Linked DNA regions of Homo sapiens. The protein of the gene in region 1 purifies or fractionates together with the protein of each later gene. This does not show direct contact. Each region holds a gene or a part of one and is shown in the gene's direction. Other genes may lie near its edges.

Evidence for each region.
Region 2: the proteins of NLRP10 (region 1) and UBE4B purify together in Homo sapiens (affinity purification with mass spectrometry; one large-scale study listed by BioGRID and IntAct). This does not show direct contact.
Region 3: the proteins of NLRP10 (region 1) and STK26 purify together in Homo sapiens (affinity purification with mass spectrometry; one large-scale study listed by BioGRID and IntAct). This does not show direct contact.

Annotation. Positions count from the first base shown.
Region 1 is NC_000011.10:7,962,567-7,966,849, reverse strand, and holds the start of NLRP10 (NACHT, LRR and PYD domains-containing protein 10), read left to right. Parts: upstream 1-1,402; 5' UTR 1,403-1,604; intron 1,605-3,175; exon of another isoform or gene 3,176-3,309; 5' UTR 3,310-3,354; coding exon 3,355-3,643; intron 3,644-4,283.
Region 2 is NC_000001.11:10,130,310-10,133,958, forward strand, and holds part of UBE4B (ubiquitin conjugation factor E4 B), read left to right. Parts: intron 1-190; coding exon 191-307; intron 308-405; coding exon 406-504; intron 505-2,059; coding exon 2,060-2,173; intron 2,174-3,649. UniProt on the Homo sapiens protein: Ubiquitin-protein ligase that probably functions as an E3 ligase in conjunction with specific E1 and E2 ligases. May also function as an E4 ligase mediating the assembly of polyubiquitin chains on substrates ubiquitinated by another E3 ubiquitin ligase.
Region 3 is NC_000023.11:132,061,153-132,064,801, forward strand, and holds part of STK26 (serine/threonine-protein kinase 26), read left to right. Parts: intron 1-2,280; coding exon 2,281-2,337; intron 2,338-3,649. UniProt on the Homo sapiens protein: Serine/threonine-protein kinase that acts as a mediator of cell growth. Modulates apoptosis. In association with STK24 negatively regulates Golgi reorientation in polarized cell migration upon RHO activation.

The DNA of each region.
Region 1 (4,283 bases):
AAGTAATACATGGTTATGATTTCTAAAGTCAATAGGCATTAAAAAACTTATGCCCTGGAACAGTAGTCCTTTCCTCTCCTGATGCCCAGTCTCTTTTCGCTAAAACAACTATTAATACATTAGATTTTAACTATTTCTTCTTACATCTCTGCATTTTGAAGTAATATGTGTACTGTATATCACTATCTTTTGATTCAACATTTTAGGCATTGTCTATCAACTTCCTCTTCTAGTACATTCCACCACCATCCTTTCAATGTAATTATATTTTAAATTTTAGAGCAATGTTCAGTGGTTACACTATGATTTCTATGCAAACATTATTCACACTTGAGTATATTAGTTTACTATTATATTTCCAATTTTATTTTTTGTTTCTCCTCTTGCTAGTAATTTCTTTATTTTACTTTCATTTATCTGGTTTTCTTGGAAGTTACTGCTAGCTTTTTCCACCTTCTAATAGCCTCCCAATAGGCTGTTTTAGAAGGCCAATAGCATCAGCTAGTCTAGCAAGTCTTTTTTCTTTTTTCTTGGAGACATTCTTTTTGGAGAAACCTGTTCTCTTTCTGTCAGGGCTCTTGGGGATCCTCAGCTCTCTAGGCCAGAGGACTGGCTGCCTTCTGGGAATTTGTTTTTCTCCTTTTTCTTTTTTGTTTTTTTGAGACAAAGTCTTACTTTGTTGCCCAGGTTGGAGTGCAGTGGCACAATCTCAGCTCGCTGCAACCTCCGCCTCCTGGGTTCAAGCAATTTTCCTGCCTCAGCCTCCCTAGTAGCTGAGATTACAGGCATGCACCATGATTCCCGGCTAATTTGCGTATTTTTAGTAGAGACAGGGTTTCACCATGTTGATCAGGCTGGTCTCAAACTCCTGACATCAAATGATCCACGCACCTCAGCCTCCCAAAGTGCTGGGATTACAGGCGTGAACCACCATGCCTGGCCTGTTTTTCTCCTTGTTTGAATTCCTACTTCATGGAGCTCCTATCTTCTTCCTTTTTCATTCTCCAGTGATTTCAACAACTTAGAGAAATGGTGCACTGGCGGAGGATATGGTGGTGGCAGTGCTTCAATTCTTTCGTCTCTCTAGTCAAACTGCCCCAGCCTAGGCTGGGGTTAAGTGGTAGAGGAGGAGTGTGGGTTCCAGGGAGGGATGTGGGAAGTCTCCTGGGCTCTTTTTCTCTTGGTGACAGAATAGTTCATGCCTTCCACCCCTCCCTTGTTTCTCAACTTCAACATTTGAAAAAATGAGGTCAAGTTTCCCACTGGTGAGCAATTGCCCATCCCATTGACAGTCATCCCACTGACATTCAGTGGGTGGTTCTGCTTCACAGAGGCTTGGGGCAGATGGGGAGGGGCCCTTCTGTTCCAGGCCTATATACTAGGAACTGTTAGGTATCAAGCTGTAGCTGGTAGGTACCAGCACCACCAAACAGAAGTGAACTAGTGAGTATGGGCTAAGAGAGCCCAAACTTGGACCTGTAGAGCTGTCGGACCAGGAAAGGGGATCTGTTTCGTCTCAGTCCCCAGGCTTTGCTTACTGGGCTCCTGGATCAGGGAGCTGAGTTCTCGCTGCCTCACCTCCAGCTCCCCAAGTCTGAACTGTGGTAAGCAGCCTAGACTGGACATCTTCTTGGCAGGTTCTAGTGTTGTCTTTTCTTTCCTGAATTATTAAATAGCTCTGCCAACATCAGAAATTTGCAGGGAAGCCCTGAGTCTTCCCATGCAGCCTGAAGCTTTGTTGTAAATTGATCCTGCTTTCACAGGCCTGCTTTTCCAAACTGGCCTATGACTCACAACCAAAGTCCCCTGTATCCTAACATGTTCCAAACATTTTCTTTCTCTGTCAGTATGTAGTCAAAATGTTGGTATTTGAATGGCAACAACTCTCTGTGTTCCCAAATTCTCTTTTGAACACTCTCAATGATGAATGTGACATTGTACTACTGAGATGGGTTCCCTATGGGCCTTAGGTCACAGGTGTATTTCTGGATTCTGAAGGCTTTCTATTAATTGTTGCTTTTCTTTTCCAAAGACTGCCACCTGGCCTACATTTTGGTTCTACATTAGAAACACAATTCAAAACTCTGCTCTCCTTTCCCGTTACTTTAGTATTTATACATGTCTCCAGCTTCTGGCAACATTTAGCCTAACTTTCTGGTTCCTGACTCTGTCTTCTATTTCTTTATCTTTTGAGTTTTTTCTGTCTCTCTCTTCCACCCAGGGCATAGACCAGTTTAAATCCTGCCTCTTTGCCCGGTGGCCTAGCTCTGGAAAACTCTGAAAAACCATTTTTCTCTGACTGCCAAATTTCTCATGTGGAACAGTTCCTGAGACGATTTCTGAGATGATCAAAAAGGATATGTAAATCACCTGGCACAAAGTCAGCACTCACAGGTGGCGGTTCCTCTTCCTATCATTATCTGGATTTGTTTCCTTATTTGAATTAGGAGACTTCTAGCTTTGCAATCCCTGTGTGACTGAGGCCAGGAGGCTGACATGTGAGGCCAATGGGTTGAGTGTAGATTTTTTTTACCTTCTTGCCATACCACAGCAGTTCCAGCAAATGTGCTCCAGCTTTCTATAGGTTCACACAGCCAGGGACAGTCTCACTTTTAAAACTTAAAACTTGGCCGGGCACAGTAGCTCATGCCTGTAATCCCAGCACTTTGGGAAGCCAAGGCGGGCAGATCACCTGAGGTCAGGAGATCGAGTCTAGCCGGGCCCGTATGGTGAAACCCCATCTCTACTAAAAATACAAAAGTGAGCTGGGCATGGTGGTGGGCACCTGCAATTCCAGCTACTTGGGAGGCTGAGGCAGGAGAATTGCTTGAACGTGGGATGTGGAGGTTGAGGTGAGCCGAGATCATGCCACTGCTCCCCAGCCTGGGCAACAGAGGTAGACTCTGTCTCCAAAAAAAATAAAATAAAAAACTTAGACTTTTTTTTCTTAATCCATCCGTCTAAGGAGGCATACAGAGCCTAATAAAGAACGTGTTGAGAGGGAAAGAGGAAGGGAGTGGGGGGAGAGAGAGAGACAGAGATAGAGTTTGGGGGAGAGAGAGAGAGATTGAGAGATTAACACACCTACATACCTTCCTACCCATTTGCCAACACAGTCACGTGTCACCTGACTAAGAGGCAGAGGGGAATGACTAGGAAAATTCCCCTGCGTTTCATCTGCTTGTCTTTCTTGGAGCTTTGCACATGTATCTCGTCTCTCCCTGGCCTCCGCTCTATAACTTGGCCAAGCCCCCAGAAAGCAGGGTGGGCCTCTCAGCAGTGGACCTCTCCTTTTGCCTCTTTCTCCAGGTCACTGGTCTTCTGGTCTGGACTTGATCCTTCCCCCAGATCACCATGGCCATGGCCAAGGCCAGAAAGCCCCGGGAGGCATTGCTCTGGGCCTTGAGTGACCTTGAGGAGAACGATTTCAAGAAGTTAAAGTTCTACTTACGGGATATGACCCTGTCTGAGGGCCAGCCCCCACTGGCCAGAGGGGAGTTGGAGGGCCTGATTCCGGTGGACCTGGCAGAATTACTGATTTCAAAGTATGGAGAAAAGGAGGCTGTGAAAGTTGTCCTCAAGGGCTTGAAGGTCATGAACCTGTTGGAACTTGTGGACCAGCTCAGCCATATTTGTCTGCATGGTGAGTGTGGAGCGGGGGAAGGGGAGGGCAGGATGGCACTGGGACTCCCCTCCCACCATGGCATTTCCAGAGCTGCCTGTAGCCTGTACCTTATGCCTTCTGTCACCTTGTCCTCTAGTCCCTGGTGCCCCAGAGTCCTTGGTGGTCTCCACCTGAGGGTTCCAACAACTGTCAGGAGGGGGACTGAGCCAAAGCTGGGATTTATTTAAGAAAAGACTAGCCTTTCTTCCCCACATCTTACCTCCAGCTGCAGTGGCAGAGAAGGGGAGAGTCTGAAGAAAGGGTCTTAGAGACTGGGAGGGTGTTGGTGAAGGGATTTCCACTAACCAGAAGAAATAGCATCAGGATGTAGGGGTCAGACCTGTCCCTAGCTGCTTCCTGGCAAGCTGCTCAGGCGCTTCTAAGTCTTCTGTGGCCCTGATCTCTCAAGGAACCACACTACAGAATGGGTGGTGTGGGACCTCATGGCCTGCTGGTTCTTCCTGTGGGTGCCTGGGGGGAGGGAGGGATCTTTTGGTGCCTTTGCTCCCTCCCATAGGCTCCTTTCATGCTTGAAAGCTCCTCTGCTACGTACAAATGGGAGGGTTTCATGGACCCAGAGTCATGGCTCTTTCTGAGAAGCTGTTTTATCTTTAGCATT
Region 2 (3,649 bases), on another chromosome or scaffold:
GGTGACCCACCCCCACCCACACTGGCCTCCCAAAGTGCTGGGATTACAGGCGTGAGCCACCATGCCTGGCTGAAACATAAAAGTTTTAATAATATCTTGTGAAAATACAGAGGAGCTGGAGAGTTTTCATTACATTTTTACCCCACCGGCCTGTTCAGCGGCTTGACTGGCTCTTCCATCTTCTGCCTAGGTTGCTTCTTTGCGGTTGTGGTTGCCGAAATCCTTAAGTCCTGGCTGTGGGCGGGAGCTGCAGAGACTCTCTTACTTAGGGGCTTTCTTTAGCTTCTCAGTCTTTGCAGAAGATGATGTAAGTATAGTGGCTACTTGTACTTTGCTGCCCTTTTATTCAGATTCTTTCCCAAATGTGCATTATATGTTGACTGCATTTTTTCCTTCTCTTTCCAGGTTAAAGTGGTTGAAAAATACTTCTCAGGGCCTGCCATTACCCTGGAAAACACTCGTGTGGTTAGCCAATCATTGCAGCATTACTTAGAGCTCGGAAGGGTAAGTGTTCAGAAAACAAATCCAGAGGAAGTATCAAAGATGAGCTCCAGATACAGAGCTTTTATTTTGTAGACTGGACTATGCCCAGTAGACAAACGGCTAACAAAAGCCAATTCGATCTTACATAAAAAAGATAAACTATAAGTAAGTAGCCTGTGTCTTGAATAACAGGTTGTAACAACAGCAGTATGCTGCCTTTGTATGTAGCATCACTGGGAACTGGTCCTAAGCTTAGTGGCCCGGCTCCTCCTCCAGCTGGCCCTTAGGCATTTACACTGTGAGGGTGAGCAAGGATTGTTAGTTTGCACACACCCTCACTGACTTGCTTATCCCAAATGCAGATTAATATGTCTTCAATTCTCAAACTTAAAGGCAGAGAAGGGCCGGGTGTGATGGCTCATGCCTGTAATCCCAACACTTTGGGAGGCCGAGTGGGGTGGATCACCTGAGGTCAGGAGTTTGAGAACAGCCTGGCCAACATGACGAAACCCCGTCTCTACTAAAAATACAAAAATTAGCCAGGCATGGCAGCGCGTGCCTGTAATCCCAGCTACCTAGCTACTCGGGAGGCTGAGGCACAAGGATCACTTGAACCCAGGAGGTGGAGGTTGCAGTGAGCCAAGATCACGCCACTGCACATCAGCCTGGGCGACAGAGCAAGACTCCATCTCAAAAAAAAGAAACAGGCAAAGAAGTTACAGGCTTGGGTAACTAAGGTAATTTTGATCATGGGAAAGAAGTAACAAAGCCTATTTTATTAAAACTGTAACTGCCGGCTGGGCGTGTTGGCTAATGCCTGTAATCCCAACACTTTGGGAGGCTGAGATGGGCTGATCACGAGGTCAGGAAGTCATCCTGGCCAACATGGTGAAACCTCGTCACTGCTAAAAATACAAAAATTGGCCAAGGCAGGTGGATCACGAGGTCAGCAGTTTGAGACCAGCCTGACCAACATGGTGAAACCCCATCTCTACTAAAATACAAAAAAAATTAGCTGGGCATGGTGGCGGGTGCCTGTAATCCCAGCGACTTGGGAGGCTGAGGCAGGAGAATCGCTTGAAACCGGGAGGCGGAGGTTGCACTGAGCCGAGATGTGCCACTGCACTTTAGCCTGGGCAATAAGAGCAAAACTCCGTCTCAAAAAAAAAAACAACAAAAATGCAAAAACTAGCTGGGTGTGGCGGCGTGTGCCTGTAATCCCAACTACTCGGGAGGCTGAGGCAGGAGAATGGCTTGAACCTGGGAGGCGCAGGTTGCAGTGAGCTGAGATTGCACCACTGCACTCCAGCCTGGCAACAGAGCTAGACTCTGTCTCAAAAAAAAACAAAAAACTGTAACTGCCTACCTCCCCCACTCCATATTCTGCTTTCATGCTCATTACTTTGACATAGTTGGATGTGGATATTTCTTATATTCTTTCACTCAGGCTCTTCTAAAATGAGTAGAAGTGGGAGAGGAGAGAACGTGGGAAGTAGGCTAGCTGTTCGTGAAGTCAAAAAGGAATCATGTGCAAAATAGTTTTAATTTGTTTCTTCTTTTTAAAAATAAATTTCAGCAAGAGCTTTTTAAGATTCTGCATAGTATTTTGTTAAATGGCGAAACCCGTGAGGCTGCTCTCAGTTACATGGCGGCTGTCGTCAATGCCAATATGAAGAAAGCACAGATGCAGGTAGGATTCCTACAGACTGCTTTTCGCTGTTTGTCAAATTCATTCATCTGACCCAGATTTAGTCAGCACCTACCAGGCACTGTTCTAGGAGTGGGGGTACAGTATTGAACAAGGTAGACGAGCTTCCTGCTTTTGTGGAGCCCATGTTCCACAGAATAAACAAGTAGACATATAAATACATGATTTTAGACAGTTGTATAATCAGTGAAGAAAATAGAGCAAAGTAAATGACATGAGAAGAACTGTAGGTACCAGAAGGAAGATCTGAAGGTGATTTTTGATTGGGTGGCAGGAAAGGCCTCCCTGAGGAGGTGACATTTGTTTCATAGGAAGGAGCCAGCCATTGTAGTGGCTGAGAAAAGAGCTATCCAATGTGGAAACGAAGCAGCTTTGGTACAAGCCCAGCACGCAGGCTTTTGTGGCTGGAGAAGAGTGAACAGGAGGGAATGTCGGGTCCTGGAGTTAGTGGATAGGCAGGGCGCCATCGGGTTAGGTTTACGTGATCAGAACTGTCATGGGAGGGTTTTCAGCAGGGAAACCACAAAAGCTGCTATGTAGACGGACCAAAACAGAAGGGGGCAGCCAGGAACAGACCCAAGGGGGCAGCCAGGAACAGACCCAAGAAGGCAGCTGCAAGGGCGTGAGTGCTTCGGTCCGGGTGAGACAGGCCAGTGGCTGCAGCTGCTTTGCCAGAGGAGAAAAGGGCATCCTTCCTTGACTAGTAATAAATAATGAATGAATGATGTGATGTGTATACTCAGAAGCAAAAATCATGTAGAGAGAAGAGCACAGATCTTGTGATTTCTGATCGTGGTTCCACCGTTTACTAACTGCGGGACCTTAGACAGTGACTCCTCTGTGCCTCCATTTCCTCATCTGCTAAGCTGCGGTACTACTGGTACTGGGTTTATTATATATAAAGCTGTTAGAGTGGTGCCTGGTACACAGTGATCACTCAACCAATATTAACTATCATTCTTATCATTGTTGTATTATTATTTTTTTCTTAACAGAGGTAATCAAGTTACATTGTTATATTGCTAATGCAGGAGCATGCTGATGCTGTCACCTAGAGAAACAATGTCACATGATAAGAAGTGGAGCAACTTGTTTTGATGCTCTTGAGGGAAATAAAGAGGAGAAAGAGGCCGGGCATGGTGGCTCACGCCTGTAATCTCAGCACTTTGGGAGGCCGAGGTGGGAGGATCACTTGAGCCCAGGCATTTGAGACCAGCCCTGGCGACATAATGAGACCCCATCTCTACAAAATATACAAAAGTCATCTGGGCATGGTGGCTGGTGCATGCCTATAGTTTCAGCTACTTGGGAGGCTGAGGCAAGAGGATCACTTGAGCCAGGGAGGTCGAGACCAGCCTGGGCAACATAGGGAGACCCTGTCTCTACAAAAAAAATAAAAAATTAGCCAGTATAGTGGCATAGACCTGTAGACCCAGTTATTCAGGAGGCTGAAGTGGG
Region 3 (3,649 bases), on another chromosome or scaffold:
TAGGCAGGCATGTTTTATAAGATCTTTTTCTTTTAAATGTCAGGTGAATGGGAAGCTCTCTGAATTCATATGATAGAGTATAGTACTTGTTAGAAACAAACTTGTGGCAGAAGAAACAATTTTTAACCTATCCACCATTGTAAGAACCACTTTTTTCTTCTCTTGAAAAAAGTATAAAGGTACATCAGAGTCACAATTCTCAGGTTGCGAGTGCCTAGGTTCTATACACAAATACAAGTTATATGAACCTTTCCTGGAACTCCTCTTCCCTCACCAGTATTGTGGGAATTTATTTCCTCTATTTCCTAATGTAGACTTCACTGCTAACCAAGACTCTCAGCTTTCTGCTCACAGTGCCTGCTGGCCATCTATGTCAGGACAGAGTGGATGTCAAGATTAGTGGAGGAAGTGGTAGGGGAATATTGTTCCTCCCTTTCTCTTACAAATTCTACATAGTGTCAGCATATGGAAAGGAGAATCATTTTGTCTTAATTAACTGAGCCCTCCCTTCATGATCGCTAACCCTAGGCCACATCCCATTCCCCACACTACAATGTCAGTTCCACTCTGATTCTTCAACCCTCTCCCATCCCCTAAGCACTCATCATCATGTCACTGGGTTCCATTCTCTGCCTTGATAAAGTCACATCCTCATGGAGATGCCTGGAAATTTTAAATTGGACTCCTGAATACCTCCCAGGGATTTTTGAGTTTGAGGGCTACTGGCAGTAGCTTGAGAATCTTCACCCCGCAGCTGGGGTTGTAAAGGTGAGAAATGTGTTTCTGGCATCCCAAGTTGAGGCACCATGCTGAATATATTTTCCTACTTGAAATATTGTTAAGATATAAATAGTAGTGAGTTTCTCTGGTACTTTTTATGCTATACTACGAATGAATACATTTGTGTGAAATTGTCTTTTGGGAGGACTACCCCAGGAACTTAGACATTATTTTTATGGGAAAATGCTTGCTTTTAAAATTCTGAACATCTTACTTAAAAACCAACTTTTGGAACACAGTCCAGTCACTACTTGGCTGCTGCCAGTATAGTAAAGCCAACCATTCTACTTCCAGTCAGCTCTTTGGTCCCACAAAAATTCAGAGAATACCACTCATGAAATGGTATGGAGAGAGAGGTGTCCCTTGTATTTAAGCTATAGCTAAAATAAAAAGGGTTTAATGGTTTATTCCAGTGTTTAACTGATGGTACTGAATGGTATGTGTGTGTGTACACCTGTTTTAGAATTTGTATACATATATTCCTCCCAGGAGCCCCATTTCCTCTTGTTCAGCTCACAGGGAAGTTAATTCCACCTGGAGAAAGCACAGATTTTTAAAGCTACACTCTCCCTTTTTCTTATCCATTTACATCAGAGGTAAAATGAACAATATTCTTTCTAGGTTCCGTGTGTGCCAAAAATGCCCATTAACCGTAGCTGATAAAAGTTTGAAGTACATCAAAACAAATGAAAGCCAACAACTGAAATAAGGCAAAATATCCATTGTCCTCAAACTCAAACCCAAAATTTCTACAAGCCCTCATTTACCTCCTCATTCTTTAATGTAACTATCTTTTCTTTCCAATATCATTCAAGATAATTATTTAAAGCTTTGTTTTTTATAAAAATTACTAATAGTTCAACAATAACAAACAGTACTTTTATTTGTTTAGCTATATCATAGGCAAAAAGGTATGCGGGTAGTCTAAGCTCAGAATTTTAATTTGGAATGTTCTATGGAAAAAATATATTCGGGGTTCCCAAGCAACCATTTTTAAACCTACATTTTAGAATCTGTTCTTTATTTTTTTAATTTTTAATTTTTGTGGCTACAAAGAAGGTGTAAATATTTATGGGGGTACATGAGCTATTTTAATAAAGGCATATAATGTATAATGATCACATCAGGGTACATTTACTCTCTGTGTTACAAACAGTCCGGTAATACTTTTCTACTTATTTTTAAAAGTATAATTAAATTATTATTGACTATAGTCACCCTGTTGTGCTATCAAATACTAGATCTTACTCATTTTCTCTAACTACTTTTTGTACCCATTAACCATCACCAACTCCCCCTCCCTACTATCCTTCCCAGCATCTGGTAACCATCCTTCTATTCTCTATCTCCAAGGGTTCAATTGTTTTAATTTTTAGCTCCCACAAATAAATGAGAACATGCAAATAGAATCTGTGCTTTAGTATGTGAGATTTAACATTTTTGCTAGTATGTTATTTTGGCTCAGGTTTGTAATTATTAAATTGTTTCATGGCTTTACAGGGGTCTAAATTATGGATAATAATGGAATACCTGGGCGGTGGTTCAGCACTGGATCTTGTAAGTATTTTAAAATAGTTACACACAGATGCAAATGTGTGCATATGCACATACCTTAATTTTTTAAATTGAAGATTAATGGCTTTTGAGCACGCTAAGTGGTTGCTTTAGTTAATATGTTCAAATTAAATTCTTTTTTCATGACCTCTACCTTATGTAGGTACAGATGTATTGTACGTTTGAACATGTTGCTGGCATTCTAAGACTATATAAGAAATGCAAATAGCTTAATAAAATAAAGTCTCCCAAATTAGAAGGGGATGTGTGTATCCATTGCTGTCAAAGTTTGACTTTTGCAAGCTTATCCCTGAAAAAACTGAGTTTTCTTAGATTTTTAAAAAATATGTAATTGAGATAACTGTCACTAAAAGTGTTTTTTATGAACTGAATGTTTGTGTCCCCCCAAAATTCATATGTGGAAATCCTAACCCCCAATGTGATGGTATTAGGCGGTGGGGACCTTGGGACCTAATTAAGTCATGAAGGTGAGTTCTCATGAATGAGATTCGCACCCTTACAAAAGAGGCCCCAGAGAGCTCTCTGACTTTCTTTCCACCACGAGAGGGTGCAGTGAGAAGAAGGCCTTCTGGAAACCAGGAAGAGTGCCTTTACCAGACTCGAATCTGCCAGCCCCTTGATCTTGGACTTCTTTCCCAGTCTCCAGAACTGTGAGAAATATTGTTTAAGCCACCCAGTCTGTGGTATTCTGCTATAGCACCTGAATTGACTAAGATAGTGGTACTAGGGTTCTAAACAAGGTTGGCCTACAGATCCAGTTCTTCACAGAGTTCTCTCTGCCCCTCTATAGGTTATTTGGAAATGTGATGGCATTTGGGTTGTCACAATGACTTAGAAGTGCTCCTGCCATTTTTGTGGTCATGGATCAGAATGCTAAAATCCTGCAGTGTGCAGGAAAATTCAACCCAATGAAGATGCATTTACACACAGAATGCCTTTGAGAAACACTGGTTGTTCCCCAATTCAGTGTGATCCTATCAATGTTGAGTTTCTTTCCCTTCCTTAAAAATCTTTATTAATATGATACTATGTTTTAAAATTCAGTATGACTTATGAGAGGCAACTTAGTGTAGTAGAATGACCACTGGGCTGGCCTGGGGTGTTTGAGGTTATAGGTCTGGCTCTGTGCCTGTGAACCAGACACAAACTTCCTGGACGTAGGTGTTCTATAAAACAAAGAAGTTGCACTAAGTTATTTCTAAGTTCCCTTCCATCTTTAATATTATATTTTTTTTATTTGCGTGTTTCTGCCTTAGAAATTATAGAGTATGCTGTTTCTAAGAAAGTGTTTTGA